Linked DNA regions of Homo sapiens: regions 1, 3 and 4 are each linked to region 2. Evidence: fine-mapped expression QTL. A gene starts in region 2. Each other region holds a variant in brackets. All regions are shown on one strand. Distances are between the middles of the regions.

Region 1 (7,633 bases), 180 kb after region 2:
TTTATTACTTCTCAGCTCCTCATTATTAATCTTTTCTTGCTGCAAATGGAGAGTTCCATGTTTCAATAAAATGTGATCAGTAATGGGACTTCTTTTTTTAAGTTAAATTTTTGTATAGGAAATACATTCACATGGTTCAATACTTGAACCATTCACAAAAGAGTAAATGGTGAATTCTCCTTCCCACTCTTTCTCCCAGCTCCTCAGTTCTTATCACAAGGAACCAGTACCATGAATTTTTTTTGTTTCTGTTTTTGTTTTGAGACAGGGTCTCAATCTGCAACCTAGGCTGGAGTGCAGTGGTGTGATCTCAGCTCACTGCAACCTCCACCTCCTGTGCTAAAGCAATCTTCCTACCTCAGCCTACCAAGTAGCTGGGACTACAGGTGCACGCCACAACACCCAGCTAATTTTTTGTACTTTTTGTAGAGCCACGGTTTTGCCATCTTACCCAGGCTGTTCTGGAACTCCTGGGCTCAAGTGATCCATTCACCTTGGCCTCCCACCCCAGTTCCCACGCTGGGATTACAGGTGCGAGCCACCACACCTGGCCCCTGAATTTGCTGTTTCTTCACATAACAGTATACCCTGGAGATGAATTCATGTTAAAATATGTAAGCTTCATCATTCTCTTTTAGGTCTCATGGAATTCCTTTAGTTGGCCATTATTTAGATAGCCCTCTACTGATGAACATTTAGGTTGTTTCCAGTCTTGCTATTACAAGCATTACCAAAATGGATATCATTTTACATAAGTAATTTCTCAAATGTGTGAGTATATACAAAGGGAAAATTCCTAGAAGTGACATTGCTAGATGAAAGGTATCTGTGTTTGCAATTTGGGTTTCTAATCGCCCTCCTCAGAGGTTGCACTAGTAATAAAAAGCATGCCTGATTCCTCACACACTCACAACACAGTCTATTATCAAAGGTTTTGACATTTGGAAGGAACATTAATAGGTGAAAAATGATATCTCACTGTGGTTTTAACTGGCATTTATCTTATGAGTAGGGTTGAGCATCTTTTTATATTTAATGTTTACATTTTGTTTTCTGTTGAATTGTCTGTTCACATTCTGTCAGGTTTTGTTTTTTTGCCTTTTGTAGGGATACTGAATATTTTGGGTAAGTTAGTGATGTTTTATTTTTTTTTCCTAGTTTGTTTTTTGCCAAATGGCATTGCTTCTAATGGTTTTTGGCATGAAAATAATTTTAATGTAGTGAAACTTAGCAGTCTTTTCCATGACTCTCATTTTGTGTCATAATTAGAAAGACTAACCTTGCCTGAGATAAGAATTCTCGGCCAGATGCAGTGGCTCACGCCTGTAATACCAGCACTTTGGGAGGCCCAGGCGGGCAGATCACTTGAGGTTGGGAGTTTGAGACCAGCCTGGCCAACATGGTGAAACCCCGTCTCTGCTAAAAATGCAAAAATTAGCCGGGCATGGTGGCAGGCGCCTGTAATCCCAGCTACTTGGGTGGCTGAGGCAGCAAAATCACTTGAACCCGGGAGGCAGAGGTTGCAGTGAGCTGACATTGTTCCACTGCACTCCAGCCTGTGGGACATAGTGAGACCCTGTCAATCTCTCTCTCTCTCTCTTTCTCTCTCTCTCTCACACACACACACACACAAGTGAATGTTAGCTATGTACTGGATAATTATGATGTCTCAATGTAGGTTTATCAAATGTAATAAATGTACATAGTGAGGGAGGCCGTGTGTATGTGTGGATGGGCAGGGGCTCTGTGGGAACTTGATGGTTTCTGTTCCATTTTTCTGTGACCCTAAATCTGCTCTAAATATAAACATTATTTTTTTATTATACTTTAAGTTCTAGGGTACACGTGCACAATGTGCAGGTTTGTTACATATGTATACATGTGCCATGTTGGTGGGCTGCACCCATTAACTCGTCATTTACATTAGGTATATCTCCTAATGCTATCCCTCCCCCCTCTCCCCACCCCATGACAGGCCCCGGTGTGTGGTGTTCCCCACCCTGTGTCCAAGTGTTCTCACTGTTCAATTCCCACCTATGAGTGAGAACATGCAGTGTTCTGTCCTTGCGATAGTTTGCTCAGAATGATTATAAACCCTATTTTTTTAAATAGATGTGTCAGAGACTGCAGGTTGCCTACCCAATTTTTGTCTTCCCTCTTGTATTAATTTCCTAGGCTGCAGGAAAAAAGTACCATAAATTGGGTGGCATAAAAAACAGGAATGTATTGTCTCACAGTTCTGGAGGCTGGTAGTATCAGTAGTGTTGATTTCTTGTGAGGCCTGTGAGAGAGAATATGTTCCATTTCTCTCCTGGCTCACTGCAGCCTCGACCTCCTGGGCTCAAGCAATCCGCCAAGCTCTGCCCCCTGAGTAGCTGGGAACACAGGTGCATGTCACCATGCCCAGCTAATTTTTAATTTTTTTTTTTTTTTGAGATGGAGTCTCACTCTGTTGCCCAGGCTGGAGTGCAGTGGCGCCATCTCAGCTCACTGCAAGCTCCGCCTCCCAGGTTCACGCCATTCTCCTGCCTCAGCCTCCCGAGTAGCTGGGACTACAGGTGCCTGCCACCATGCCCGGCTAATTTTTTTGTATTTTTTTAGTAGAGACGGGGTTTCACCGTGTTAGCCAGGATGGTCTCGATCTCCTGAACTTGTGATCTGCCCGCCTTGGCCTCCCAAAGTGCTGGGGTTACAGGCGTGAGCCACTGCGCCTGGCCAATTTTTAAATTTTTTTTGGTAGAGATGAGGTCTCCCTAGGTTGCACAGGCTCATCCCAAACTCCTGGGCTCAAGTGATCCTCCAGCCTCGGCCTCCCAAAGTGCTGTGATTACAGGTGTGAGCCACCATGCCTGGCCAGATTTTTTCCTCTTTTTTGTGTGTGTGTGATGGAGTCTCGCTCTGTTGCCCAGGCTGCAGTGCAGTGGCATGATCTCGGCTCACTTCAACCTCTGCCTCCCGGGTTCAAGTAATTCTCCTGCTTCAGCCTCCTGAGTAGCTGGGAATAAAGGTGTGCACCACCACGCCTGGCTAATTTTTGTATTTTTAGTAGACACAGGTTTTCACCATGTTGGCCATGCTGTTCTCAAACTCCTGACCTCAGGTGATCCACCGGCCTCAGCCTCCCAAGGTGCTGGGATTATAGACATGAACCACACCACCCAGCCCAGATTTCCTCTTCTCATAGGGATGCCAGTCATACTGGATTAGGGCCCATCCTGATGACCTCACTTTAACTTGATTACCTCTGTTAAGGGCCCTGTCGCCAAACAAAGTCACATTCTGAGGTACCAGGGATTAGAACTCCAATATCTTTTTTCGGGGGGCAGGGGCACAATTCAGCTCGTAACACATCTCCCTCTTTTCTTACTAACAGAACCCTGGTTTCTTTTGCTGGCCACATAGCCCACTAGATAATCAGTTCCCAGCCTCCTTTGTAGCTAGGTATGGCCACATATCACAGTTCTGGCCAAAGAGATATGAGCAGGTGCTTGCCAGGGATTTCCAGGGAAACTTTGCTTTCCTGTAAAGAGGCCTGCCCTTTCCTCTGGTTGCTTCCTCCTCCTCTGTCCATGGCTGGCACGTGGGAGGGAGGCTATAGCACTGGCATGGATGCCTTGGCATTACAAAATGCTCTGGAGAACAGTGTCCTGCAGCTACCACACCAGCTCAGGCTACTTACCTCATGATTTTGCTGAGAAAAACAATCCCCACTGTTCAGGGGATTTGAGTACCTGTAGATGAATGCAATTCTAACTGGAAGAACACTTGAGGTGAAATGTGGAAGAGACTTGGGGACATTGGGACTAAAA[C/T]TTTTGGATGACGATTGCACTATCCCTGTTTAGGGACTGCCCGTGTGGTCAGGGAGCAATTTGGGGCCCACTCACTGCCCTAGCGCATCAGTCCTTCAAGGAGAGGAACTTGCTGGGAGAACCTGAGTTAGTGCCTTTCTACCAGCCTTTAAACCTGCGCCAGGGGAAAACACCGTTTTAGGGACTTAGTGAACAATGGGTGCGCCATGCAGATGTCATTCCTAGGCAACACCCTAGGAGTGGCAGAGCAACCAAAGAGAAGGAACCGGGGTCCCAGATGCTGTGCTGCTACCATCACAGCCCCAGACAGTTATGCTTGGACCAGTAAGTGAGAGTCAAGTAGAAGACTTACATCTTGTTCGAGCCAATGTTATTTGGGCTTAACTAATACCTCATCTAAGTTATCCTAGAAAAGTACATCTAGCTTTAAATTGTTAAAATTTGTCAGTCTGTGATAAAATTGATGGTACACAATTTTACTACTGTATGAAAATATATGTGTAAAGTCTATTATGGAACTGGTATACGTTAGGGATCTCACCTAGCTCATTTAAGAAGAAAGGGACTGGCAGGGCGCGGTGGCTCACGCCTGTAATCCCAGCACTTTGGGAGGCTGAGGCAGGCAGATCACGAGGTCAGGAGTTCGAAACCAGCCTGGCCAATATGGTGAAACTCCATCTCTACTAAAAATACAAAAATTAGCTGGGCTAATTAGTGGTGGTGCATGCCTGTAGTCCTAGCTACTCAGGAGGCTGAGGCAGAAGAATCACTTGAACCTGGGAGGTGGAGGTTGCAGTGAGCCGAGACCCCACCACTGTACTCCAGCCTGGGTGACAGAGCGAGACTCTGTCTCAAAAAAAAAAAAAAGAAGAAGAAGAAAGGAACTTAGAGAATTTGGGGTAGCTTATGTTATCTTTAGGAGGACCTGGGACCAAAATTTGGATGCTACAAAGACAGGGACAATAGTAGCCAAGATAAATGCCCAGATGTTGTAGACAGTTGACTGTCACCACTATCTCTCCTCAGCACCTATGACACTCAGGACTGGCCACAAAATGTCCCCAAAGCTGTCCCAGAAGTACTGAAATCTTCAACATCACACTGGAAAGAAAGGCCATTCTCCCTGTGACCCTGTCTCTACCCACTTCCTAGAACTGAAGCTGCAAATATATCTTGGGAATCACAGGTTTTATCATCCCAGGCTCTGCAGCAGGAAAGCACACTAGAAGAGGATGGGGAGGCGTCGAGTAAGCCAGTCAGCATCTGCTGCAGAAAGTGATACTACGCCTCTGAAGCTCTTCACTGGGAAACACAGCATACTGCTATTTTCATGCATTTCTGAAGTACTTCTAAAGTGTGAACTAAAAAATCCTTGCTAATTTGGTGATTTGTTATATTTTCATAAACTCCTTATGCAAATGTAAGATTAGTAAATGTTGCCTACTTCTGAGAGTGTATTCTTCCATTGTACATCCAAAGGTGCTATGGAGCATACATTTTTTAATTCTGAAAACATTGGGAACTTAATCACGTAGGATAAGGTGTATGACCAGCTAGACAGGGAGGCACTCCCTGAGCCTTTTTCTTCCATCCTCTTCTGGCTGAACACCCTTTCCTTTACGATCTCACCTTCAGAGTTACTTGATTCCTGAACCCATGTTTAGAGCCTCACCTTTACCTCTGAAATCCTGAATTGGCTGCTGCATGTGGGCCATCTTTCTTTTGCAGTATCTGTGGACCACTCAAACATGTAATTTAAAATGTATAAACAGTGGGGCATGGTGGCTCACACCTGTAATCCCAGCACTTTGGGAGGCTGAGGTGGGAGGATCACTTGAGCGCAGGAGTTTGAGACCAGCCCAGGCAATAAAGAGAGACACCATCTCTACAAAAAATTTAAAAATTAGCTGACTGTGGTGGTCTGTACCTGTGGTCCCAGCTACTCAGGAGGCTGAGGTGGGAGGATCGCTTGAGCCCAGGAGATTGAGTCTTCAGTGAGCCGTGATCATACCACTGTACTCCAGCCTGGGCAACAGTGAGACTCAGTCTCAAAAAATAAAAATAAAAAATAAAATAAAATGTATAAACTCAATCTTCCTCCTTAAATTTATTTTTCTTCCTGTGTTTCCTCAAAACCTCCAGCTTCTGTTGAGGCTTCCCTTCCCCCAACTCCCACATCTAGTCTCCTACCTGGATCTATCACTTCCACTGCCTTTGACCCTTGCTTCTGTCCTCTCTTGCTGAGAGGCAGAGGACGCCGCGCTTAAACTGTGGAGTGAGACCACAAAGAAGCTGAATCCCAGATGTTCTTTTTTTTTGAAACGGAGTTTTACCCAGGCTGGAGTGCAGTGGTGCTATCTTGGGTCACTGCAACCTCCACCTCCTGGGTTCAAGTGATTCTCCTGCCTCAGCCTCCTGAGTAGCTGGGATTACAGGCGTGTGCCACCACATCCAGCTAATTTTTTGTATTTTTAGTAGAGACGGGGTTTCATCATGTTGGCCAGGCTGGTCTCAAACTCCTGACCTTAGGTGATCCGCCCTCCTTGGCCTCCCAAAGTGCAGGGATTACAGGCATGAGCTACCGTGCCTGGCCCAGATGTTCTTTTTTAAACAAATTATTTTATGTTTTATTTTTTAAGAGAGAGTCTTGCTCTGTTGCCCAGGCTTGAGTGCAGTCGCATGATCTCAGCTCGCTGCAACCTCTGCCTCCCGGGTTCAAGCAATTCTGCCTCAGCCTCCCAAGTAGCTGGGATTACAGGAGTGTACTATCACACCCAGCTGATTTTTGTATTTTTAGTAGAGATGGGTTTTTGCCATGTTGGCCAGGTTGGTCTCAAACTACTGATTTGATGTAATCCGCCTGTCTCAGCCTCCCAAAGTGCTGGGATTACAGGCATGAGTCACTGTGCCCAGCCTGAATCCTAGATGTTCTAAAAGTCAAACCTCTCCATGCTTCAATTTCCTCATTTTTAAAAAGGGCTGACACTAACCCACGGGGTTATTGTGAGAATGAAATAATATATGTGTAGTATCTAGTGTTGTGTAACAAGCTTCCCCAAAACTGAGTAGATAAGACCACAATTATTGGTTGTCTCGCCGCTGTGGCAAGGCAGGAGTGTGCAGGCAGTGCAGGCTACAGGTCTCTCCTGAGGTTGCCGTCATCTGAAGTCCAGGTGAAGAATATGCAGCAGCTGGGGCAGAGCAGCCGGCACTCCTCGGGCATCTCTCGCTCTCTCTTTCTCTGTGCTGCTCCGTATGGCAGCCTCAAGGTAGCAGGACTTCTTACATGGTGGCTGCAAGCACCCAGAGTAAGTGGCGCAAGATAAACCTGCAAAAGCCCTGGGGCGTTTTCTAACTTAGCTCGAAGGTCACTCTGTATCCATGTAGAACAGCAATCGCAAAATCTTGCTTGGTTTTAAGGGGAGGAGATGTAAATTCTGTGAATGAGAAGCCCGTCAGAAAACCTGTGGACCTTTCTACAAACTATCAGAGGTGACTATGAAGATGTTTTGTACTATTTGGATGGTCCACTGTTTATCTCATGACGGAGTAATTAAAAGACTTACTAAACTGAAAAAATGTGCTACACGTTTTTTTTTTCCCACAGATAACCGATCCAAATTGTTGACCATTTCTTTCTTTCTTTCTTTCTTTCTTTCTTTCTTTCTTTCTTTCTTTCTTTCTTTCTTTCTTTCTTTCTTTTTTTTTTTTGAGGCGGAGTCTCGCTCTGTCGCCCAGGCTGGAGTGCAGTGGTGCAATCTCTGCTCACTGCGAGCTCTGCCTCCCGGGTTCACACCATTCTCCTGCCTCAGCCTCCCGAGTAG
Region 2 (7,633 bases):
ATATATTTTTTTATTCAATTCAGGCTACTGTGTGGTCAGACTGTTATCTGTAGGTGCATTTTAACTAGCAAATGAATCAGTTAAATGTTGAATCAGACTAGTATTTGCCGAGCCTTTAAAATTGCCATTTCTTTGTCATCACCCAAAAAGAATGTAACATTTGCCAAACTCTATTTCTGGCTCATCTAATCAGGTACTCAGGTTCTGGTGGAAGCTACTGATTGTTTCAAAGACCAGAAATTTTCTTCCTCTGAAGGAAAATAGAATATTCTTTACAGGAGAAATTTAGAGAACTATAGCAAATAGTATTGCTGTAGGGATTTTTGGATATGAAGCCAGAAATTTGGATATGAAGCCAGAGATTTGGAAATCCAAGCTAAAACTATCAACTGCATTTAGACTATTTTTTCTGTCTTTCAATAGTTCAGACAGTTGAAAGATCTCTTGGGGCAGTGAATTTTGCAGGTTATTACTAAGTAACAGCTTAAAAATGAATTATAAGCTTGTTCTTAGTTTTATAAAGTTAAGGTTAAAATACTGGCCATATTTCAAACTGAAACATAGTTTCCTGTATATATGATTTTTCTCAAACTTTTGAAGAGAGATCACAGAATTTAAGGAAACTCCAGGATTTGACTGTTAAAAACCTTATTTATGACCCCGGTGAAGGGCGAGGACAATCAATATAGCAGCTACAAAACCCAAGTTTATATTGGGAAACATGTATCTCAACTCACACCTTTCAGGGACAGTTAAGAGAAGTTTGAAAATTAAAATATCTTTGCAAATAAATTTAAAACAGTAAAAAACACGCACATATTGTTTAATAATTCATGATGCAAAGAATGCTACAGAGTGAAATCAGGATTTGGAAAGAGGTAATCAAAAACCAAAGGTTAAAAGTGGCTCATATAACTTGAAAATTTTTAGATCAATGGAATGCCACTTTGAAAAAGTTTTACGGTCAGCTGTTAATGAAATGACTTACATTTTTGGAAGGACTCCTATTCGGTATGTAGTCTGACCTCGCCTACTCGAGTAGTTCCCTCTAGTATCCTTGCCAGTCTTTGGCTTCTAAGATCTGAGAATTTCTGGGGATGGGGAGTTCGAGTCACAATATTAAGAACTAGTTTGAAGCCAGCTCCAGGGTAGTCTGTCTTTAAGTCTCCACTACTCCGCTCCAAGGTGACTCATAAGGTCGGTCCGTCAACTCTGCATTATATGGCCTCAACAACGAAATTAAAACACATACTTTAACCTCCAGAGCCTCCTTTGGCAGTGCAAATATGTCACTTCGGATCTGACTAACTACCTTTCCAGGCTGATCTTAAGCAACATTCACCAAATTACCGATACGACAGCCAGGCCCATTTCATCGGTCAAGCTCTTTCACGATTTCCAGACTCTGTTAAGCCCCTTTCTCCCCAGGGCTGTTAACAAGTCTCCACTGCGGTGAAGCTTTTTTCATTTTCCACTCCGCCTCTGCTCCTTAAATTAGGCATTTCGTCCATAATCAACTACAGCGCTTCTCAAACACCTACACCTGTATTTTAGCACTTTGGGCTCAAACGATGATCACACAGTGTGCGAGACTCTTTCCAAGGAATGAAAGGTCGATCTAGCAGGAAGGCGCCAGAGAGGCTGTTTTTGATGAGGAGGCGGTCTGAACCGTACTTGCCTAGCCTCCCGTAGCTCCGCGGGCGCTTCGAGGGTACCACGCACTGAAATGATGGGCGGGGCCTGCCCCGACCCTCCCGGCCTCCACAGGCAGGCCAGCCTCCAGGTTTCCCGGCAAGCTCCGAAACCCAGAGGAGGTGGGGAAAGGAGGTCACCGCGCCTGCGTGTTAGGAAGCGTGACCCGGGTGGGAAAACCCTCCGCGTCCGCCATTTTGGCTGCCTCTGTCGGTCTGTTCAGTTACCACGTGAACCGCCGACGGAGACCCGTAGTGGGGGAGGCGGCGGCAGCGTTAAGTGAGAAAGGAAAAAAGACAACGAGGAAAAAGGAGGTGTCCGGGTAGGGCAACGCGGCGACACCCGAGGCCTGGTGGTGGCGGCGGATCGAGATATTCAAGGCTGAAGCAGCTACGGAACGGCAGCGGCGGCGGTCGGACAAACTGACTGACCGAGCCGGGTGGTGGCGGGAGCAGCGGGAGCAGCCGGAACGATGCCGGCCGTGAGCCTCCCGCCCAAGGAGAATGCGCTCTTCAAGCGGATCTTGGTAAGTGTGAGGCTCCGGGCAAGCGGTGGGGAGGATTTAGCCGGTAACCGGGCCTGTCACCCCTAACCTCGGCCCGGCGGGCACTGAGCCACTCCCGCCCGGGACCCCGCCTTCATAGCTCTCGTCAGGCCGAATGCATTGCTTTGCTCCCTCTCTGTGGTTCCTACTATGGCCCGCGCGCCAGGGACCACAGGCTTCTTCATTCCATCCCCACGCTTGAGGCCCTGGTTCCGGACTAGGCCCCGACCTCCCGGCTTCTAGACTGCCGGTTCTCATTCTCCCCGATCTGGGGGAGAAGAGGCCCGGCCTTTGGCGGGCAAGTGGGCGACACCGGCAGGAGTCGCGGCCCGGTTGGTGTGGGAACCCTGCTGGCAGGTCGGGGTGGCACCCTTGGAAGGAACAGGTGGTGCGGATGCAGCAGGCTCATTCATTGCCTAAACGCGGTTCTCCCTCCATCATCTGTCCCTCCCTCTTCCTCCTCTCTTGGGATTCACCTGTCTCCGCCCGGCCCGGGGTCACCCAATGACCTGAGAGGAGGGAAAGAAGGAGTTCAGAGAAGGAAAGAAAGCTTTTCAAACGACTACCTCCTTGTAGTCAGTTGCATACTGGAGTCTTCAGCTCCTCTGCCTCCGTTGTTCTCGTTTCTGGAGTAGGGATGAGGCATTTATTTCTTAGTTTCCGAGCGGGAAACAGCCCCACCCCGTCACTCTTCTCGGGAGGTGGGGCCCATTGCGAGGGGGCGGTTCGGTAGGAAGTAAAAAGTTGAGTCTTTAGTTGAAACGTTGCAGACCTAGACTTTTCTTATACACTGAAGTATATTAACACATGCAAAAACTTACCAGAGAAATGAGAATATAAGAACTTTTGAGATGGATTTTGTTGACGCTAGCTCAGACTTATTCCCTACGGTTCAAATGTGTGCAGTTTGTATTTTTTTAAACCATAAATGCATTGATGTTTGCAGGGACTGTTTACATTGTAAAATATGTCCTGTAGCCTTGGAGCTATAATTAACACATTGTAGCACATTTTTTGTTTGGCATTTAGTATGTGGGTTCCCCCTTTCACGCAAACGTTTCCTTATGATAGAATTAACTGTATTTGCCAAATTTAAGACTTTTAAAATTTGGGATGTGTGTGTGAAAGTGTTAGCCTTTTCCCCCGCAGTTATAATTTATTTCACCTGTTTGAAAAGTAGAACAACTCTGGGGATTCAGTTTTTCTAGAAATGAATAATCATCCATTTGAACTAACTTTGATTTTACAAAAGTGTCCATATGCCCTACAGATTTAGTGAATTCATTTTGAAAAACATTAGAAAGTCACATGCAGTGTCGCAAAACTGTTACCTTGAAATTCTTACTGGAATTTTGTTTTGTTTTAAGACTAAGAGTGTAGGTGGAGCTGTAAAATAGTTTTAGGAAAAAAGTTACTTTTAAACCCTTAAAAAGACTAATTGGTGTGCAGGTAGAACTGTAACATAAGTTTAGAATAGCAATTTATCTTTAATCTCTTTTTCACAATTCTTTATTTTGAAAAAAATGAAACTGAAAAGTTGAGAGAACAAGGAACACTCATAAACCTTTACTTATATTTATTTGCCATATATGCTTTCTCTCTCCCTATGTATATGTATATATACATTTGTATAAAAGTAAGTTGTAGATGTAAAATTTATCTCTAGGCTGGGCACGGTGTCTCATGCCTGTAATCCCAGCACTTTGGGAGGCTGAGGCAGATGGATCACTTGAGGTCAGGAGTTCGAGACCAGGCTGGCCAACGTAGTGAAATCCTGTCTCTACTGAAAATACAAAAATTAGTCAGGCATGGTGGTGTTCGCCTGTAGTCCCAGCTACTAGGGTGGCTGAGGCACAAGAATCGCTTGAACCCGGGAGGTGGAGGTTGCAGTTCCAGCCTTGGCAACAGAGGAAGACTGTCTCAAAACAAAAACAAAAAACTTCATCTCTAAATACTTAAGCAAGCATCTCCTAAGAATAAGGACATCGTCTTGTATACTTATAACAATCATTCTCTAATATTGTCTAATATCTGGTTCATATGGAGATTTTCTCAAGTGTTAGCACTTTTTTTTGTTTGTTTGTTTGAGACGGAGTCTCGCTCTGTCGCCCAGGCTGGAATGCAGTGGCGCGATCTCGGCTCACTGCAAGCTCCGCCTCCTGGGTTGACGCCATTCTCCTGCCTTAGCCTCCCAAGTAGCTGGGACTACAGGTGCCCGCCACCACGCCTGGCTAATTTTTTGTATTTTTTAGTAGAGACGGGGTTTCACCATGTTAGCCAGGATGGTCTCAATCTCCTGACCTAGTGATCCGCCCGCCTCGGCCTTCCGAAGTGCTGCTATTACAGGCGTCAGCCACCGCACCCGGCCAAGTGTTAGCACTTTTTAAATAAATCAAACTTTTAATTTTGAGAAGACTGTAATAATCACGTAGTTTAAGGAATAATACAGTGCACTTTACTCAGTTTTCCCAACACTAATACCTTGCAAAACCATGGTTCATTATTATAACATTGATACAATCCACCAGTCTTATTCAGATTTCCCCACTTTACTTGTACACGCGTGTGAGTGCTCGCGCACGCGGGTGCAGTCATCCCTTGGTATCTGTCGGGGGTTGATTTCAGGATCCCGCGAGATTCCAAAATTTGCAGGTGTTTGAGTCCCTTATGTAAAGTGGTGTAGTATTTGCATATAACCTATGCGAATGTATACTTTAAATATCTCTAGATTACTTATAATACCTAATGCAATATTACTGTTATATAGTTATACTGTATTTTAAAAATTTGTATTTTTTATTGTATTTTTAAAAATAGTTTTTACCTATGGATGCAGACACCAAGGATAATGAGAGCTGACTGTATTTACTTCTATGCAGCGTTATCCCATGTATAGATTGCACCACTACAATTAGGCTACAGAACAAGTTCCTTCAGTCCAAAGTACCCCCCTCTGTTGCCCTTTTAGAACCACATCCATTATCTCTCCCACCGCCCTCCCATCCCCTCTCGCTGCAGGCTCCAGCAACCGGTACATGTCCTCTATTTGTATAATTTTGCCATTCTTTTGGGTTTAGAGATAGAGTCTTCCTCTGTTGCCCAGGCTGGAGTGTAGTGGCTATTTATAGGCTCTATCAAAAGGGCACTGTAACCTCAAACTACTGGACTCAAGCAGTCCTCCCGCTTCAGCCTCCGGAGTAGGGGGGATCACTACAGGGCTACTACATCCAGCTAATAGTTTATTCCTTTTTATTGCCAAGTAGTATTCCATGATATGGATGTACCACAGTGTGTTTAACCATCCATATAATAGCAATTTTTGATTAAACATCTTAATTTTTTTGTGGTAGTGTTAGTGGGGCAAAAACCTGTAAGTTTATTGCCAAAATCACAGTGCTGAAGATCTATTGATAAGTTATATGTGAGAGAAATGTGGAAGTCACTAAATGAAGGAAGAGTAAAGGAGCTAAAATGTCCTTATTGTTCTCATACATTAGGAATGAAGAAAGTGTTACTGACCAAAAGGATAGTATTGATTTTTTGAAATTGCTTCTGTTTCTTGAGATTTGATAGTAAGTTAGTGCTTTTAAGATTTTTTTTTTTTTTGCCCGGTCTGATAAAGGAAATGTTGGACATAATGTGATGTGTGTGCTCTATGTAATCAAGTGTTGCTAGGTTGGTAACTTGTTGTTTTTTTTTTTTTTTGAGACGGAGTTTCGCTTTTGTTGCCCAGGCTGGAGGGCAATGGCATGATCTCGGCTCACCGAAACCTCTGTCTCCCGGGTTCAAGCAGTTCTGCTTCAGCGTCCTGAGTAGCTGGGATTACAGGCGTGTGCCACCACACCTAGCTAATTTTGTATTGTTAGTAGAGATGGGGTTTCTCCATGTTGTTCAGGCTCGTCTCAAACTCCCAGCCTCAAGTGATCCACCCGCCTTGGCCTCCCAGAATGCTGGGATTACAGGCCTGAGCCACTGCTCCTGGCTGCTTGGTAACTTGTTAAATCATTCCTGCAGCATTCAACTTTTGAGCTGCTACTTTGTTAGTTGTACTGTACTTGTTATGATAAACTTAAGTAGGAAATACAGTTAGTTTGTATTTCAAAATAAACATTTTTTTCCTTAAATTTTTAATGGAAACCTGCTTTACACATAAGTTTGCAAAAATTTTAGAGTTTCTGCAGTGGATTTGCCTGGCTTGATCTAGTCTAGTTGATCTCTAAAATTCAGTTTTGTTGTATATTTTTCTCTTTTTTCCAATATTACTCTTCTGTTTTCTGACTAAAGCATTGTCCTAAGTTAGTCAAAATGCTTGCATAATGTTTCTTGCTGATAATTTGTCTAGAAAAAGGATGGGATGAATTTAATGTGACATATACTATGTAAGAGTTTATTTTATTTTGTTTGTTTTTTGAGACAGTTTTGCTCTGTCACCCAGGCTGGAGTGCAGTGGTGTGATCTTGGCTCACTGCAACCTCCACCTCCTGGGTTCATGCCTCAGCCTCCCAAGTAGCTGGGATTACAGGCGCCTGCCACCACACTCGGCTAATTTTTTTTTTTGTATTTTTAGTAGAGATGGTGTTTCACCATGTTGGCCAGGCTGGTCTTGAACTAGTGACCTCAAGTGTTCTGCCTGCCTCGGCCTCCCAAAGTGCTGGGATTACAGGCATGAGCCACTGCACCTGGTCCTATGTAAGAGTTTAAGGAAGACTTGTGTTTGCCAGAAGCTGGTTTTTTTTTTTTTGGTCTGGTTTTTTTTTTGTTTTGTTTTGTTTTGTTTTGTTTGTAATTACAAACTTTTAACTTATTTGGAAAATTAAGTCATTAGAAAATTGTGGCCTTTGCCTACTGTTGATGCTATTTGTTTATCTAAAAGTTTGAGGAGGTTACCAGATATTTATACCACTTTGTTAGGATCTAGGTTAAGGGTAGGAAAAATGAGGTTGCCAGAGTAGAACAAAATCCACACCTTAGATTTTAACCTGCTTGGAAAAGATGGACATATCCTAATGCCTTTCAATCAAGTATTGGTAGGTTGGTTGCTGTTGCTGCTGCTTCCTTCTCTCTTTTTTGCTCTTCAAATGTTAATGTCAGTTATAAGAAAAATCTAAGTTGGGAATAGTTAAAATATTGTACATCAATAAATGTAGTTTTGGACTTTAGCCTGAATGATTTAAATTGTTAGTTGTAAGTGTTAAAGGACAGAATTTTTCTTTCCTAGAAAAGTGGTGAGAGAAGTTAAAATAGCATGATGATTATGTTTGTGATTTGTCACTATTTGCCAGGTAAAATGAGAAATCTACCATTTGCCAGGCTCTGCTCTAGGTGCTTTAGAATAGCACTGCACAGTAGAATTTTCTGTGATGATGGAAATATTTGTTATCTGCTCTAATATGATAG
Region 3 (7,633 bases), 58 kb after region 2:
ATAAAGTTATTATATGAAAGGGATTGTGCTAGGGGTTATAAGGATGCAGAAAAGAAAATATGGACCTTTCCAAAGATCTTATAAACTTAGGAGGAGTTTTATAGCTAGATACATAAATAAACTCCTTTCATAGTACCTCCCTTGTTAATAAACATAGGGACCATTTTGGGGGGTGCTCTTAATATATGTAATGCCTCATCTTGGTTTCTTCTCCCTCTTCTCCTAAGATGATGGAAAGGAGGAACCACCAACCACATTACTTTGGGTCCAGTACTACTTGGCACAACATTATGACAAAATTGGTCAGCCATCTATTGCTTTGGAGTACATAAATACTGCTATTGAAAGTACACCTACATTAATAGAACTCTTTCTCGTGAAAGCTAAAATCTATAAGGTAAAAATCTTTTTTTCTATTTTCTTATAAGGTAATGAGACTTGTCATGAACTTTTTCTCTGTATTTTATAGATTCTAAATATAGGAAAAGTGACATTTGATAACTCAAAAAACATGAAGTAACAAGTATAGTACATTTCTCAGTCCAATTACTTTGAGACTTGTGGTCATGCTAATTTGGTGATTTATCTATATCCGTATACACACACATACGTACATACATTAATGTATATGTATTCACACGTATCTGGTAATTCTCTTGGGTTTGGAGAGTAAGAGTATATAGGTAATCCAAAAGAAATTTTATTTGCTGTGAAATGTGTATTTCTATTAAAATTTGAGTATGATAACATATCAGTATCTGGCAATGTTATTGAGATGAAACTGTGAAGATTCTATTATGAATTCTACAGGTTATCTCTTTTGACTTCTCAACTCCTGGGCCTTGCTTGAGAATTTTTAGTCATATATTTTAGTATCATCTTAAAATAAAGTTGGCTTTTCTCTGTCATATTGCAAATAAAATTTAGTAATGAAAGCTCTTGAGGGACTGATAATAAACCAGTAATTTGTTTAGCAAGAAAATAATGAAATTAAGTAATATTTAAGAAGTTTTTTTGTTTGTTTTTGTTTTTGTTTTTTTTTTTTTGAGAGAGAGAAAGAGTCTCACTGCATCACCCAGGCTGGGGTGCAGTGGCGCGATCTCAGCTCCCTGCAATGTCTGCCTTCCGGGTTGAAGCAATTCTCATGCCTCAGCCTCCGGAGTGGTAGCTGGGATTATAGGCATGCACCACCATACCCAGCTAATTTTTGTATTATTTGTAGAGATGGAGTTTCGCCATGTTGGCTAGGCTGGTCTCGAACTCCTGGCCTAAAGTGATCCACCTGTTTTGGCCTCCCAAAGTGCTCAGATTGTAGGCATGAGCCCCTGCACCTGGCTAAAGAAGCACTTTTGATTTTTTATTTATTTTTTTTATTAATTTTTTTATTTTTAGATTTTTTAAAAAAATTATACTTTAAGTTCTAGGGTACATGTGCACAACGTGCAGGTTTGTTACATAGGTATACATGTGCCAGGAAGCACTTTTTAAAACTAGATTATGGCTCATTAGTTTTGAAGCTTTGCCAGATGGACTAGTTAGGTAACTTAGAATGAGGAACATTGGGGAATGTCTACTAATGGTCCTAATCAGTAATGTTTCCATGGTTCCTTTAGCGTACAGATTTGGCTATGCCTTTTATGACTTTCACATTTAATTATGTTTTGACTTCTAGTATTGGCCGGGAGCTGTGGCTCATGCCTGTAATCCCAGCACTTTTGGAGGCCAAAGTGGGCAGATCACAAGGTCAGGAGTTCAAGACCAGCTTGGCCAATATGGTGAAACCCCATCTCTACTAAAAATACAAAAATTAGCCAAGTGTGGTGGCAGGCCCAGCTACTCGGGAGGCTGAGGCAGGAGAATTGCTTGAACCCGGGAGGCGGAGGTTGCAGTGAGCCAAGATTGTGCCACTGTACTCTAGTCTGGGTGACAGAGTGAGACTCCCATCTCAAAAAAAAAAAAGATTTCTGTTATTATTTATTTATTTTTTATTGACATGGAGTCTTACTGTCACCCAGGCTAGAGTGCAGTGGCATGATCTCAGCTCACTGCAACCTGCACCTCCTGGGTTAAAGTGATTCTCCTGCCTCAGCCTTCCAAGTAGCTGGGATTACAGGCATGCGCCACCACCCTTGGTTTACTTTGTATTTTTAGTAGAGATGGGGTTTCACCATGTTGGCCAAGTTTGACTCGAATTCCTGATCTCAGTGATCCACCCGGCTCGGCCTCCCAAAGTGCTGGGATTACAGGCATGAGCTACAGCGCCCGGCCTTATTTATTCTTTAACAATTATTTTTGAGTATTTTTACTATGTGCCAGGCAGTTTTGGGCAATGGCGATATTAACAGTAGACAAAACTATTAAAATAAATCTTTACTGTCAGACAGCTTACATTCTAGAAGGCTGGAAAAAGGAATCAGAACTTATATTATGGAAGAATGCATTTCTTTATATTGATTAGCATCTAAGAGTCACAAGAATGCCTTTACTTTCATTTGTTTTTAAATTATTTATCAACAGATAATGAATTACCTGCACAGTAAACTTAGCATGCTAACTGGTTTATTTTGCTTTTGTACCTTATAAGCATGCTGGAAATATTAAAGAAGCTGCAAGGTGGATGGATGAGGCCCAGGCCTTGGACACAGCAGACAGATTTATCAACTCCAAATGTGCAAAATACATGCTAAAAGCCAACCTGATTAAAGAAGCTGAAGAAATGTGCTCAAAGTTTACAAGGGTTTGTACAGCTAGTGTTCTTAATTATGAATAAAGAAGACATGAGCCAGTTCATACTTGTATAACATGCTTATTTTTCAAAGTTTGTCTTTAATATTTTTGACACCGTAATAGCCAAGATTTTAATTAAATCACTGTATCAGAAGATACTGGAGTCAACATTGATATAAAGGATTTTCCATTTAGAGGGTTGTACAATGGACTTTTAAACTGGTTTATATTCATGTACGTTCAGATAAATTTTTTAGGGGTCAAGGGAACTAAAATTTATTGAATACCTGCTATGTGGTGGTGTTCTTTTTCTTGTATTAATCCCTACCCTCAATTATGTAGACCTTTGAAACTACATTTGTGTTTCAAAGTTTCACAGTGTTGAACACACAGTGTGTGTTCAAAAGTTTCACAGTTTCACCTGTGAAACTACAAATTATTTTTAGTAGTTAGAGAATATCAGTTGTTTTCCCATGTTAACTATTCTTTAAGAATGTTTTAAAAATTTTTTTGAAAGAGTCCCAATCAGCTTAACATCTTTGTTTTTTAAAATTCTGTGGTAGAATGATGTCTATGATAAAAAGTGATCTTGAAAATATTTGATTTCTGTATAGGAAGGAACATCAGCGGTAGAGAATTTGAATGAAATGCAGTGCATGTGGTTCCAAACAGAATGTGCCCAGGCTTATAAAGCAATGAATAAATTTGGTGAAGCACTTAAGAAATGTCATGAGATTGAGAGAGTAAGTACCTTCTACATAAAAGTTTTCTTGTTTTATTCTGTCGATGGTTTTGGACAAATTTCATAGTTTTTTTCTCTTCTATTTCTTTATAATTCATAGTAGGTGCTTTTTAAAATCAGTATTCACTTTTTTCAGTTTTCATACTGGAAATATAGACT[G/A]CATTTTCAGCCAGGGTCTCTATTGTCTTGTGGTAAGAACTCTTTTTTAAAAAACTTTATGGAAAATTTGTATCTTGGCTATGTTTTTATTGATTTTTGAACCTTCCAAATTGCTGCTGCCGCTTTAGTAGTACATACACAGCTGATTAAAGTACTCCTAGGACCCTGTTCATTGTAGAATTTATTGATGATGCCATATACCCTTGGTAAGATATAAATGTTGGAAGACTTTTCACAATATTTCTTCTGTAGCTTATCTAATTTCATGCTGTTTGATAAAATTGTTTTCTTAATTCTCTTCACGTCTGACTCATTTCCATGACTAGTGGTTGGTTTTTCTTTTTTGTGTTTTACACAGATAAACATAGTTTATATAACTAATTTCACATTTGCAATATTGTCAAGTATAGAATACCAAAGCTTAGTTGAAATGCATCAAGTTCCTGATTGCTTGACTTACTTGCTAATTGATTTCTTTTCCACATACCAGCATCACATTGCATAGGATTCAGATTTGTATCCTCAAAAAAAAATTATCAAATACATCTTATAATCCTTTGCAAATGATTCTAAATATAAAAACTCAATGTTTAACATGTGAGTCTACTTGCACTACTATGTAAATAAATTATGTTTGATGTTGTCACAATAGCTTTAAGTATAATTAAGGAAGGGATAATGAATAAACATTTTTAAAGCTTCCTTTTTCAACAAATGATTCTGTGCCTGCAGTATGCCATATCCTGTGCTAGACAATGGCTAACTGTATTTGCTTATTTGAAATGCAAAATATTCCTGTTGAATAATTGTAATTGTTTTTTTAAAATTTTACTAGTTTTTTTCATGCCAAAGTAACAAGTATTCCAATGCTTTGATTTTATAGTTTTCTTAGCCATTGCTGTACTTCGGTATAATAATAAAAAGATAATTTTGTTAGCATTTTATAGAAATCACTGATGACCAGTTTGACTTTCATACATACTGTATGAGGAAGATTACCCTTAGATCATATGTGGACTTATTAAAACTAGAAGATGTACTTCGACAGCATCCATTTTACTTCAAGGCAGCAAGAATTGCTATAGAGATCTATTTGAAGCTTCATGACAACCCCCTTACAGATGAGAATAAAGAACACGAAGCTGATACAGGTATAATATTCAGAGTTCTTCTTGTGCTCTGATGTGTTTATGTGTATTTATGTGTATTATGTTTTTCATTTAATAGTATTGCTCCATGTCTTGAGCACCACGAGGAAAGATATTATACAAGGTTCTCTAAACAACAAAAGAAAAATGTTTACTTTTATGCTTCCAAAGTTAAACAAGAATTTAATTTGCAGTTATTCATTGGCATTTAAGAAGTTTGCATGTTATGAGTTTTACATTTAATATCTGGTTTACCCAAAATTATAAATTGCTAACTATTTTACAGGTACTAGATTGCTAATTGTATAATTAGTATTATAATTCTACATTAGTGTTGGCTATTAGTATTACTAGTTATTTTTTTGAGATGGAGTCTCGCTCTGTTTCCCATGCTGGAGTGCAGTGCATGATCTCGGATCACTGCAACCTCCCAGGTTCAAGCGATTCTCCTGCCGCAGCCTTCTGAGTAGCTGGGATTACAGGTGCCCACCACCACGCCTGGCTAATTTTGTGTTTTTAGTGGAGACGGGGTTTCACCATGTTGTCCAGGCTGGTCTCGAACCCCTGACCTCAAGTGATCTGCCCACCTCGGCCTCCCAGAGTGCTGGGATTGGCCTCCTAAAGTGCTGGGATTACAGGCATGAGCCACTATTCCCAGCCTATTCCTCTTTTTAATAGTAATTTATAATTAACCTACTAAAAATGAATATTGCTTGAACATTAAAAACCAGCTTGGGATAAAGCTAGGAAAATTGCACAGTGACTTATCATTTGACTCATTTTTAATGTACCGTTTTTATAGTAGGGTATCGGAATGACTAGGGAGAAGTCTTTCTTAGACAGTTATTTGGGACAGAACCTGAGAATGAGTGATCTCATACGTACAAAAATATGAATTTTGTGCCTTACTCATGGCAAAAATGTTGTAGGAATTGGGGCATAAAAAGTGTGTTTAATTTTTTTTTCTTTTAAGCCTATTTCTTTTTTGAGGATATGATTGGCTACTTTCTATATCCTTCTTCCTGCTAAACAGCTTTTGAATTATTTTGCTAATTTGTCGTTAAGTTTTACTTCCTGTTGCCTAAGGACAGTTTAGAAATTTCTAAGGTCACATACTGAAGCCTTTGTACAGATATCACTTGAATCTCTTTCTACCTGTTGGTGTTGCTTCAACTTAGAAGAAAACACCAGTAAGAAGAATCTGCTGGACAATTTACTGTTAAAGTTGAGAGCTATGACCCTCTGGCTTCTTTTGTTTTTCTTTCTATTCTTCTGCCTCCCTCCTTCTCTTCTTCAAATTATACAAATAATACACAATTAACTTTTCAAAGCTGAGACTATTAATACAGAAGTATACTTAGCAAATATGAAGATCCCCTTTCACTTTTCTCCCACCCATTCTTCATTCCAGCAATTATCCCTGTGAAAGGATCAATTCCCTTTATGCACAACTAGTTTCCAGAGTTCTATGTGTACATATACACATGCATTTCAGGATGGTTCTTTGCAGGGTTTCTTGTTTGATTTGTTTTTCTTTAGTCCATAATTGGGTTTATATCATACTCAGTGTTCTGCAACTTAGACTTTTTACCCCATTTAATAGTATTGCTCCATGTCTGCATATCATAATTATTATTTTCACTGTTAACATTTTAGTGACTGTAGGAATCTATGTGAATTTTTTCACCATTATAGTACTATAGTAAATGTCCTTGTACATAATTATGTGCATATTTATTTAGCATGGATTATTAGAAGTGGAAATCGGTGGGTTGAAGGATATGAGAATTTGGGATAAAAGGTTCATCAGTTTTTATTACCACCAACATGGGTATTGAGATTTTCTTTTATTTTACATTATTGCCAGCTCTGAAGGTTATTGTTCTTTTACATTTTTGTATGTTGGGCAAAATATCTAGTTTACAATTAATATATTTTATTTGTTTGTTTGTTTTGTTTTGTTTGAGACAGGATCTCATACTTTTGCCCAGTCTGGAGTCCACTAGTGCGATCATAGCTCACTGCAGCCTTGAGCTCCTGGGCTCAGGCAGTCCTCTCAACTCAGCCTCCTGAGTAGTTGGGACTACAGGTGCGTGCCACTGCACCCAGCTAATTTATTTTTGTAGAGACATGGTCTTGCCATGTTGCCCAGGCTTGTCTTGAGCCCCTTGGCTCAAGTGATTCTCCTGCCTTGGTCTCCCAAATTGTTGGGATTACAGGCATAAGCCACAATGTTTGACCAATTTCTAGATTTTTAATGGAGTGGATTATATGTTTTCTTTTTTTCACTTAGGTTTTATCCTTTAAGATGAGTATCTTTCATTATATACAAGTTTTAATTTTTAATATTTAGTCTTTTTTTGTGGCTTCTAGGTCTTGCTTAGAAAGGCTTTTTCTACTTAAAAATTTAAAATATATTTATGAATATCTTCTGTGTTTTTCTTCTAATACTTCTGCTTTGCAATTTTTTAGATTTGGCTCTTTAAACATTTGGAGTTAATTTTTATATACGTTGTAAGGTGGAGGGTGGCTTTCCACCTCCCTTCCTCCCCAAAATAGACTGCTATTTCCTCTGTAATATTTATTGAGTAGGTTTTTGTATTCCTCGCTGATTTCAAATGCTACCTTTATCATGATAAATTCTGAAAAAAATAATGTAGTAGGTCATAGGCATGGTTTCTTGGTCTAACATATATTAAAGATATGATTAAAACTACATGGTATTGACATCAGTACACAGATAGGTTTCTGTTGTTATGATCCATTTTTCTCAATCTAACACTGTGTCTTTAGAATTTTCGTGTTTTTACATGCAGATTTTTGCTTATGCATACACGGTAGAATTAGCTTGTCTTCC
Region 4 (7,633 bases), 200 kb after region 2:
TTTCAAAAACATATAAAAACACACATATAAGATCATGAACTCGTACTCATCACCCAGCTGAAATCCTTATCCACATGTGGTCAGTCTGGTTTTATCTACACCCACACTTCACTTCCCTTATCTCCCATATTAGCCTGAAGAAAATTCCAAATATCCTGATTGTTTTAAAAGATATTTTATCTAATCAAGTCCTGCTGGTTTGAGGGTCTTTTTCCCCCCTCTGGTGACTTTATTTATTGATTTCTCTGGCACAACTTATTAGGTATCTCTTTTCAGATCTTAAAATGGCTCCCAGAGTGCGATTTTGAGTTCTTGAGGGAAGCCTATGTTCTGACAATTGCCATTATCAGTAGGCAGAGTTCATTCCATTCGCTTTTATCTTTTCTTAATTACTCACGAACATCATTATGAGCATCAGTCCTTGGGCTGCACTATAAAGAGGAATGCCAGCTTTTCTGTGTTCTACCCAGGGCGCTTGATCCAGATGTGGGATCTTTGGGAGTGGAGCCCCAAATCTGCTTCTTTTACACGTTCCCAGGTGATTCTTCTGGCCACTGAAATTGGAGAAGCAACTGGCTGAGAACGTTTTCAGAGATTATTAAGGTACATAGATCTCAAGCCACGGTGCTGAAAAGCCAGAAAGGAGACTTTTAGAAACCCAGCTGCATTTTTCTAAATCTTCTCCATCCTCTCTTTTGCTGGCTCTGACTTTTCACTGGGTCAGAGGCTCTAAGGCTGGAACCTGATGTTCCACGGGGACTGTGTTATGGTTGTTCTTCTACAGAGTAAAGTGCATGAACTGAAATAGCTATTGACTGCTCAGAAGTCACTCAGTCTCAGGTTTCTGGCTGTGTTCCACATAGCTGTAGGTTTTGTAAATCGTACTTAGATAAGTTGTGTTCCTGTACACACACACACACACATGCACACACACAGAGTCCGAGTGCTATAATAATTCTGATAAAGAAATTTCAGAGGCCAAGCACAGTGGCTTATGCCTATAATGCCCAGCCAGTACTAATGATCTTATAACTCGTGTTTTACAGATAACTGTGCTCCAGGCAGAGAGAGATTTTAAAGACCTGTATGACACAGAAATGCTTCTGTTTGTTTTAAAAGATAAACCAGTTTTGTTCAACTTTGTTTACTGTAGGCGCCAGAAGTGCTATTAGCCCTCTTGAAATTTGGGCTCATTTAAAAATAAAGTCCGGGTGCGGTGGCTCACGCCTGTAATCCCAGCACTTTGGGAGGCCGAGGTGGGCGAATCACCCAAGGTTGGGAGTTCCAGACCAGCCTGACTAACATGGTGAAACCCTGTCTCTACTAAAAATACAAAAATTAGATGGGCATGGTGGCAGGCACCTGTAATCCCAGCTACTCGGGAGGCTGAGGTAGGAGAATCGCTTAAACACGGGAGGCGGAGGTTGCAGTGAGCCGAGATTGCGCCATTACTAAACTCCAGCCTGGGCAACAAGAGCGAAACTCCGTCTCAAAAAAAATAAAATAAAAAATAAAAAAATTTAAAAAGCCCTGGAAGTGGTGTCTTAATTTAGCTAATCAAAGTTCAACCTGATGATAGGAAAGAACATCAACTGAGTTTTCATGTTTTTTTTGTTTTTTTGTTTTTTTGTTTTTTTTTTAGACGAAATCTCTCTCTTGTTCCCCAGGCTGGAGTGCAGTTGCGCAATCTCGGCTCACTGCAACCTCCGCCTCCTGGGTTCAAGCGATTCTCCTGCCTCAGCCTCCTGAGTAGCTGGGATTACAGGCGGCGCCTGCCACTACGCCCGGCTAATTTTTGTATTTTTAGTAGAGATGGGTTTTCACCATGTTGGCCAGGCTGGTCTTGAACTCCTGAGCTCAGGTGATCCACCCGCCTCGGCCTCCCAAAGTGCTGGGATTTTTAAAATGTGTTAAATCATCCTTTCCCTAGAGGTGTTTGTTTTACAGCATGTCAGAAACAGTATGAGAATAAATCCTCACCACAAGAGGGAGCTGGACCATGAAGAAATTAATGGGTTGTTTTGGAAATAGAAATAAAAACTGGGAAAGTGCAGGAGATTTACGGTAAGACCATCAGTATCATCAGTGGTGACCGTTATTTGCACTAAGTGATTACTTCATTCTTTCAGTTGCTCAGATCAAAAACTGCGGAGTTCATCCCTGATTCCTTACTTCCTATTATATTAAAGCATGTCTTTTAATGCTGACTCTTTGACATCTAGGGCCTTGTGGGCTCTGGAGGGACTGCCCCCCACCCAGGGCTAGCTGATTCCTAGAGATAGCAAAGGCCTGGCACCTTTCACATGCAACCTAACCAAATCAGCCTCTGTGCCTACAACCACTTCCTTCTTAGGCCTCTTCCACTCCAAGCCACCATTACCCCAGGGTCAGGTACCAGACAACTAAAGACAGCCGGTACACCCCAGAATCTACTGAAGTTATTCAAGCTAGCCAATCCCAGGCCTGCTGACTGCCTCTCCATTTCTTCCTGCAGACACCACAATACAGGTTCTTGTCTACGTTTTCTCTTTACTCCATCTACCTCCTACTTGATCCTGGTGCTTCCCCATGTGGCCCCTGTAACATGGTGTGCCCCCTCCTCTTGGGAACTGTGAATAACAAACTATTGTTGGGGTTCAGAAGACAATATCCAGAAATGAAGGCCTCAGAGGCAGCTTCAGGAGCAAAGATTTTTCTCTGACTTTCTCCTGCCCTTCTGTCTCTGAGTCCCATCCTTCCCAGAGGCTGCCTATAGACCCCAAGGCAGATCC[T/G]GCCAACCAGAACTATTTTTCCCCAAAGCCAGCCATAAAACCTAAAAATATCACTCTAACTTTCCCTCTGCCTTTCTGTGTAAAAACTGACCATAAAGAAATTATCTCATGCCTGTAATCCCAGCACTTTGGGAGGCCAAGGTGGGCGGATCTCTTGAGGCCAGGAGTTGGAGACCAGCCTGGCCAACATGGTGAAATCCTGTCTCTTTTACAAATACAAAAATTAGGCATGATAATTGTTTGAACCCAGGAGGCAGGGGTTGCAGTGAGCCGAGATTGCACCACTGCCCTCCCACCTGAGCAACAAAGCAAGAGTCTGTCTCAAAAAGAAAAAAATTTTCTGACCTACCTTGTTTGACTATAGTCAGAAGACCCCCATTCCAGAAAGGGCACTAAAGCTGCCTTTGCAAAATTATAGTCAGAGAAATCTGACATAACTGACTATCTTGCTTCTACCAGGTTAACTTGCTTGTCCTCATTCTTGTGTGGAGGCCATAATAGTCCTTTCCTTGAACTGGTCCCTTCCTTGTTCAAAAATGGAAATCGAATTTGTAAAGACTAACAAGAGGACGCAAGGTTAGAATTATGGTAGAGGCTTGAACTTTGCTAAAGCATAGGCTGAGTTAAACAATGACCTGCCATTGCCAAGCTTGTTTTTCTGTAAGTTGCTTACTGCCCCAGAGTCGCAAGATTTATAACTTCCCCAACTACTCCTGTAGATAACATTACTACTGTGAAACCTGAAGAATCGGTCTTTGAGATATTTTTCAGATTTAGCATTTCAGCAGACCCAGAGATGCCACCTGGTCCCAAGACCCCCCCTCCCAGGAACTGATTCAGCTGCATGAAGACAGTTTAGACACCCCTGTGATTTTATCCACAGCCAATCAATCCTTTCAGTTTCCCAGCCCCCTTCCCACCAAAGTACCCTTAAAAACCCCAGCCTCTAAATTCTTGGGAAGGCAGATTTGAGAAATTTCTCCTGTCTTCCTGCTTGGCTGGCCCTGTGATCATTAAATTCTTTCTTCGCTGCAACATCTGCTGTTCTCAGTGCACTGTTTTTTTGTTTTCAGGGCAGTGGGCAAGAAGAACCCACTGGGTTCTGACAACCCTGCCCCATACCCAGAAGAAAGGAATGCATGCTCAGAGAGGCCAGGAAGAATCTAGACAGAGAGGTTTTGCTAGGTTTTCCCACTCAGCCTGTTAGCATTAGATCATGCCGTTTTTGTCCAAACATATTTCATACTTCATTGAACCTAAGTATAAAAATGGCCAATTTCCCCTATACCTTTGGATCATCATTCTAAAGGCTCTTGTGTATACACATTAAATAAATGTATGTGCTTTTTCTCCAATTAATCTGCCTTTTGATTTTGAGTTGATTTTTCAGCAAATTTTTGAGAGCGGCATTTGTCTCCTGATCTGTTGGCCTCACCATTCCTGAATAATCAGTGAAATGCCTAATGCCATATCTCAGCACATTCTACTGTTTCTTCCTATGATGCACGCCAGTTCAACCACTTCTCCTCACCATGGCCCCTCTGTCCTGCCCACCATCATCATGAACCCCCTGCTTCCACCTGGGTCCCTACTCCCACTCCAGCCTATTCTCAGTACAACAGCCTGAGTGATCCTTTTACACGTGGGAGGAAGATCTTGTCATTCTTCTGTTGAGATCCTTCCAATGAAAGGGCTAACAGCAATTACAATTTCAAAAGCATTTTCAGAAACTGTAGTAAACTAAGTTTAAGAAAGCTGGTGGTTTTTGTTTGTTTGTTTTGTTTTTTTGAGACGGAGTCTTGCTCTGTCGTCCAGGCTGGAGTGCCGTGGTGCCACCTTGGCTCACTGCAACCTCCGCCTCCCAGTTTCAAGCGATTCTCCTGCCTCAGCCTCCTGAGTAGATGGGATTACAGGCATGCACCACCACGCCCAGCTAATTTTTGTATTATCAGTAGAGACGGGGTTTTGCCATGTTGGCAAGGCTGGTCTCAAACTCCTGACCTCAGATGATCTGCCCACCTCAGCCTCCCAAAGTGCTGGGATTACAGGCATAAGCCACCGTGACTGGCTGCACCACTGCACCTCGCACTCTGAGTTTAAAACAAAGTCCTTGAAATAGTTTTCGGGGCCCCTGTAGAATTTGATTCTCTTCTCTCCCCACTGGCCGGTCCCCTGGCCTCCTGCGCTTCCCTGAGCATTCCCACCTCAGGTCGTGGCTCTCTGCGGCCCCCCTCAGCCTGAAATGTTTCCCCTGGAATCTCCATAATTTGTTCTCTCTCTCAGGAAATGAGGTCTTCCCTGACTTTCCCCCACAAAAAAATAGCACCCCTCTTGGCCCTGCACACCTCCTCACCCTCTTTATTCTCCTCTCTTTGTCCCATACCACTTACCCAGGCACATACAGTCATTTACTTGCTTCTTATCCGTTTCCCTCACTAAAATGCAAGCTCCACAAAGGCAAGGATTTTGTTTTTATTCACTGCTGATTTGCTAATGGCCCAGAAGAGGGACTGCTATGTGGTAAAGCTTAAGAAATTCGTGCTGAACTTGGATGAAGCTGGAGGCCATTATTCTAAGTGAAGTAACCAAGGAATGAAAAACCAAAACCCGTTATGTTTTCACTTATAAGTGGGAGCTAAGCTATGAGTACACAGAGGCATTCAGAGTGACATAATGGACTTCAGAGACTCAGAAGGGGGAGGGTGGGAGGGAGCTAGGGATAAAAATCTACATATTAGGTACAATGTACATTACTCAGGTGACAGGTGCACTAAAATTTCAGAATTCACCACTGGATAATTACTCCATGTAACAAAAAACCACTTGTACCCCAAAAGCTATTGAAATATATTTTTTAAAAAGGTACTCAAAAAAAAACCCCAAATAAATAAATAAATAAATAAAAGTACTCTAGTTCAGTCACTCCCACATCACATGCCTAGAAAGTGCTTTGTGCACATCCAGGAAGATATGCCTAGTGATCCCCGCAAAGCCTGTCATCTAAGGGAGAGGCCAGCTAGATGCTTCACTCATTAAACAATCGAGAACACACAATAATGGTCTGGCAGTGTCCATCCACATGTGGCAGGGCAGCGGAGACACGGCAGGTCCCGAAGAGTCAGGCCAGGCTTCCTGGGGCAGGGGCTCTTCACGGGGGACTGCTTGGAAGGAGGCAAGCTGTGGCTATGCCTGGAAAGGTGGCATCCCAGAGCAGGCGGAGCAAAGTTAGTGAGCTCAATCCATGGGTCAAAACTCAATCTTTTTTTCCCCCAGTTGTCATCACAGTTTAATTTTACAAATAGAAAAAACTGAGGCACAAAGAAGTTATGTCACACAGCTAGAAATTGCAAGGCTGGGATTTCAACCCAAGATGATTACCCAATTCTCCTAATCATTACAATCTCTCATTCATGCACTCACTCTACGAGTATTTATTGAGTGCTTACAGTGTATCAAATGTTAAGGATATGTTAGTGAATAAAACAAACTAAAATCCCTGTCTATTCTAGAGGGAGGAGAAAGACAATAAACAATCAACATAATATAACTAAGTTCTACGGTATGCTAGAAGGTAATGAGAAGCATGGTGAAAAATAAAGGAGGGTAAAGTGGCCTCGGAATGCTGGGGGAGGAGAATGTTGCAGTTTAAGTGGGGTGGTCAATGAAGTCCTCATGCAGCAAAGACTTGAAGGGCACGAGGGCAGAGCCTGTGGCTCTCTGGGAGAAAGACATGCCCAAGAGCGGGGCAAGCCTGGCTCTCCTGGACTGCAAGGGGGTGGGTGTGGGTGGAGCACAGGAAGGAAGAGGGAGAGAGGACATGAAAACAGTCTTCTGAACCCCACAGCAAATCCTTATTTGCCAGAGAGTAGTCGAAAGCCCAGCGTCACACAGACAGTGGCAAAGCCGGGTGAAACCAGTCTGACTCCAGATCTCAAGTCCTTTCCACCACACAACCCTCCCTCTGCCACAGCAGAGAGGCAGGAAAAGAGAAGCAGAGGCGGGAAGAGGGAAACCCCATCACGGAGGATGCTTCACGTGGTGGAGGCAAAGAATGAGAAATGAGATGGGATGGAGAAGCTATGCTGGAAATCCAGGCAGAGGAGGTGGAAGTTCGGGATCAGGATAGAAATTGGCTGAGAATAAAATTATAAGAAGCTGGTCTTGCTGGGGGTGGTGGCTCACGCCTGTAATCCTAACATTTTGAGAGACTGAGGTGGGCGGATTGCCTGAGCTCAGGAGTTCGAGACCAGACTGGGCGGTGAAACCCTGTCTCTACCAAAATACAAAAAATTAGCGGGGCATGGCAGCATGCTCCTGTAGTCCCAGCTACTTGGGAGCCTGAGGCAGGAGAATTGCTTGAACCTGGGAGGTGGAGGTTGCAGTGAGCTGAGATTGCGCCACTGCACTCCAGTATGGGCGACAGAGTGAGACTCTGTCTCAGAAAAAAAAAAAAAAAAAAAAAGAAGCTGGTCTGTGTGTTGCATGGATTGGATCAAAGAGGGACCCAGTCAAAGAGATCAGTTGATTGGTAGGCTAAGTGGATGATGATCAAGGGAAAGGAAGACACAGGATACTAAAGGTTGGCCTTAACCCCTGGAGAGCAAGCGGAGAGAAGGGCAGGAGAGAGAGCTCCCATAAGTATGGTTAGGAGAGCAGCAAGGAGCCCAGCTGCCCGGCTTCAGACTCTGCCTCTATGGCTTTCTACTTCTGCGACCATGTGCCTTAACCTCTCTATGCCTCAGTTTTTCTTTCTGTAAAATGGTGTGGTAACAGTACCTATATATATGGTTGTTGAAAAGATTAAATGAATAATCTAAAACACTTAAAACGGCCTGATAAAACTCTAGATAAATATATCTTTG

Direction of the effects. Positions count from the first base shown, and alleles are read on the strand shown. Sizes are in standard deviations (SD) of each study's normalised expression.
As copies of T replace C in region 1, the expression in fibroblasts of the gene that starts at base 2,864 in region 2 goes up (small effect, 0.19 SD a copy in GTEx).
In carriers of allele A in region 3, the expression in spinal cord of the gene that starts at base 2,864 in region 2 tends to be lower than with G alone (moderate effect, 0.43 SD a copy in GTEx).
As copies of T replace G in region 4, the expression in thyroid of the gene that starts at base 2,864 in region 2 goes up (small effect, 0.12 SD a copy in GTEx).

Evidence for each region. PIP is the estimated chance that this variant, and not a neighbour inherited with it, causes the effect. A credible set is the group of variants that fine-mapping cannot tell apart.
Region 1: its variant is the best candidate, but not a certain one, in a credible set for the expression of NDUFC1 in fibroblasts (GTEx, PIP 0.75).
Region 3: its variant is the best candidate, but not a certain one, in a credible set for the expression of NDUFC1 in spinal cord (GTEx, PIP 0.72).
Region 4: its variant is the best candidate, but not a certain one, in a credible set for the expression of NDUFC1 in thyroid (GTEx, PIP 0.85).

The regions. Positions count from the first base shown.
Region 1 is chr4:139,478,116-139,485,748 of GRCh38, forward strand. No RefSeq gene overlaps it. Among named protein-coding and RNA genes, the nearest start is that of RAB33B, 28 kb to the left of the region's middle. The variant C/T (reference allele first, on the strand shown) is at 3,810.
Region 2 is chr4:139,299,614-139,307,246 of GRCh38, forward strand. NDUFC1 (NADH:ubiquinone oxidoreductase subunit C1) reads right to left here and starts at 2,864. Exons shown (of 6, transcript NM_001184989.2): 1 at 2,803-2,864. NAA15 (N-alpha-acetyltransferase 15, NatA auxiliary subunit) reads left to right here and starts at 1,892. Exons shown (of 20, transcript NM_057175.5): 1 at 1,892-2,218. The coding sequence starts at 2,165. RefSeq lists enhancers at 1,283-1,402, 1,883-1,942.
Region 3 is chr4:139,357,159-139,364,791 of GRCh38, forward strand. NAA15 (N-alpha-acetyltransferase 15, NatA auxiliary subunit) reads left to right here. Exons shown (of 20, transcript NM_057175.5): 11 at 228-397; 12 at 2,585-2,737; 13 at 3,342-3,470; 14 at 4,566-4,779. Among named protein-coding and RNA genes, the nearest start is that of NDUFC1, 58 kb to the left of the region's middle. The variant G/A (reference allele first, on the strand shown) is at 3,629.
Region 4 is chr4:139,495,968-139,503,600 of GRCh38, forward strand. It overlaps a transcript of SETD7 not described here. Among named protein-coding and RNA genes, the nearest start is that of RAB33B, 46 kb to the left of the region's middle. RefSeq lists a silencer at 1,828-2,122. The variant T/G (reference allele first, on the strand shown) is at 2,772.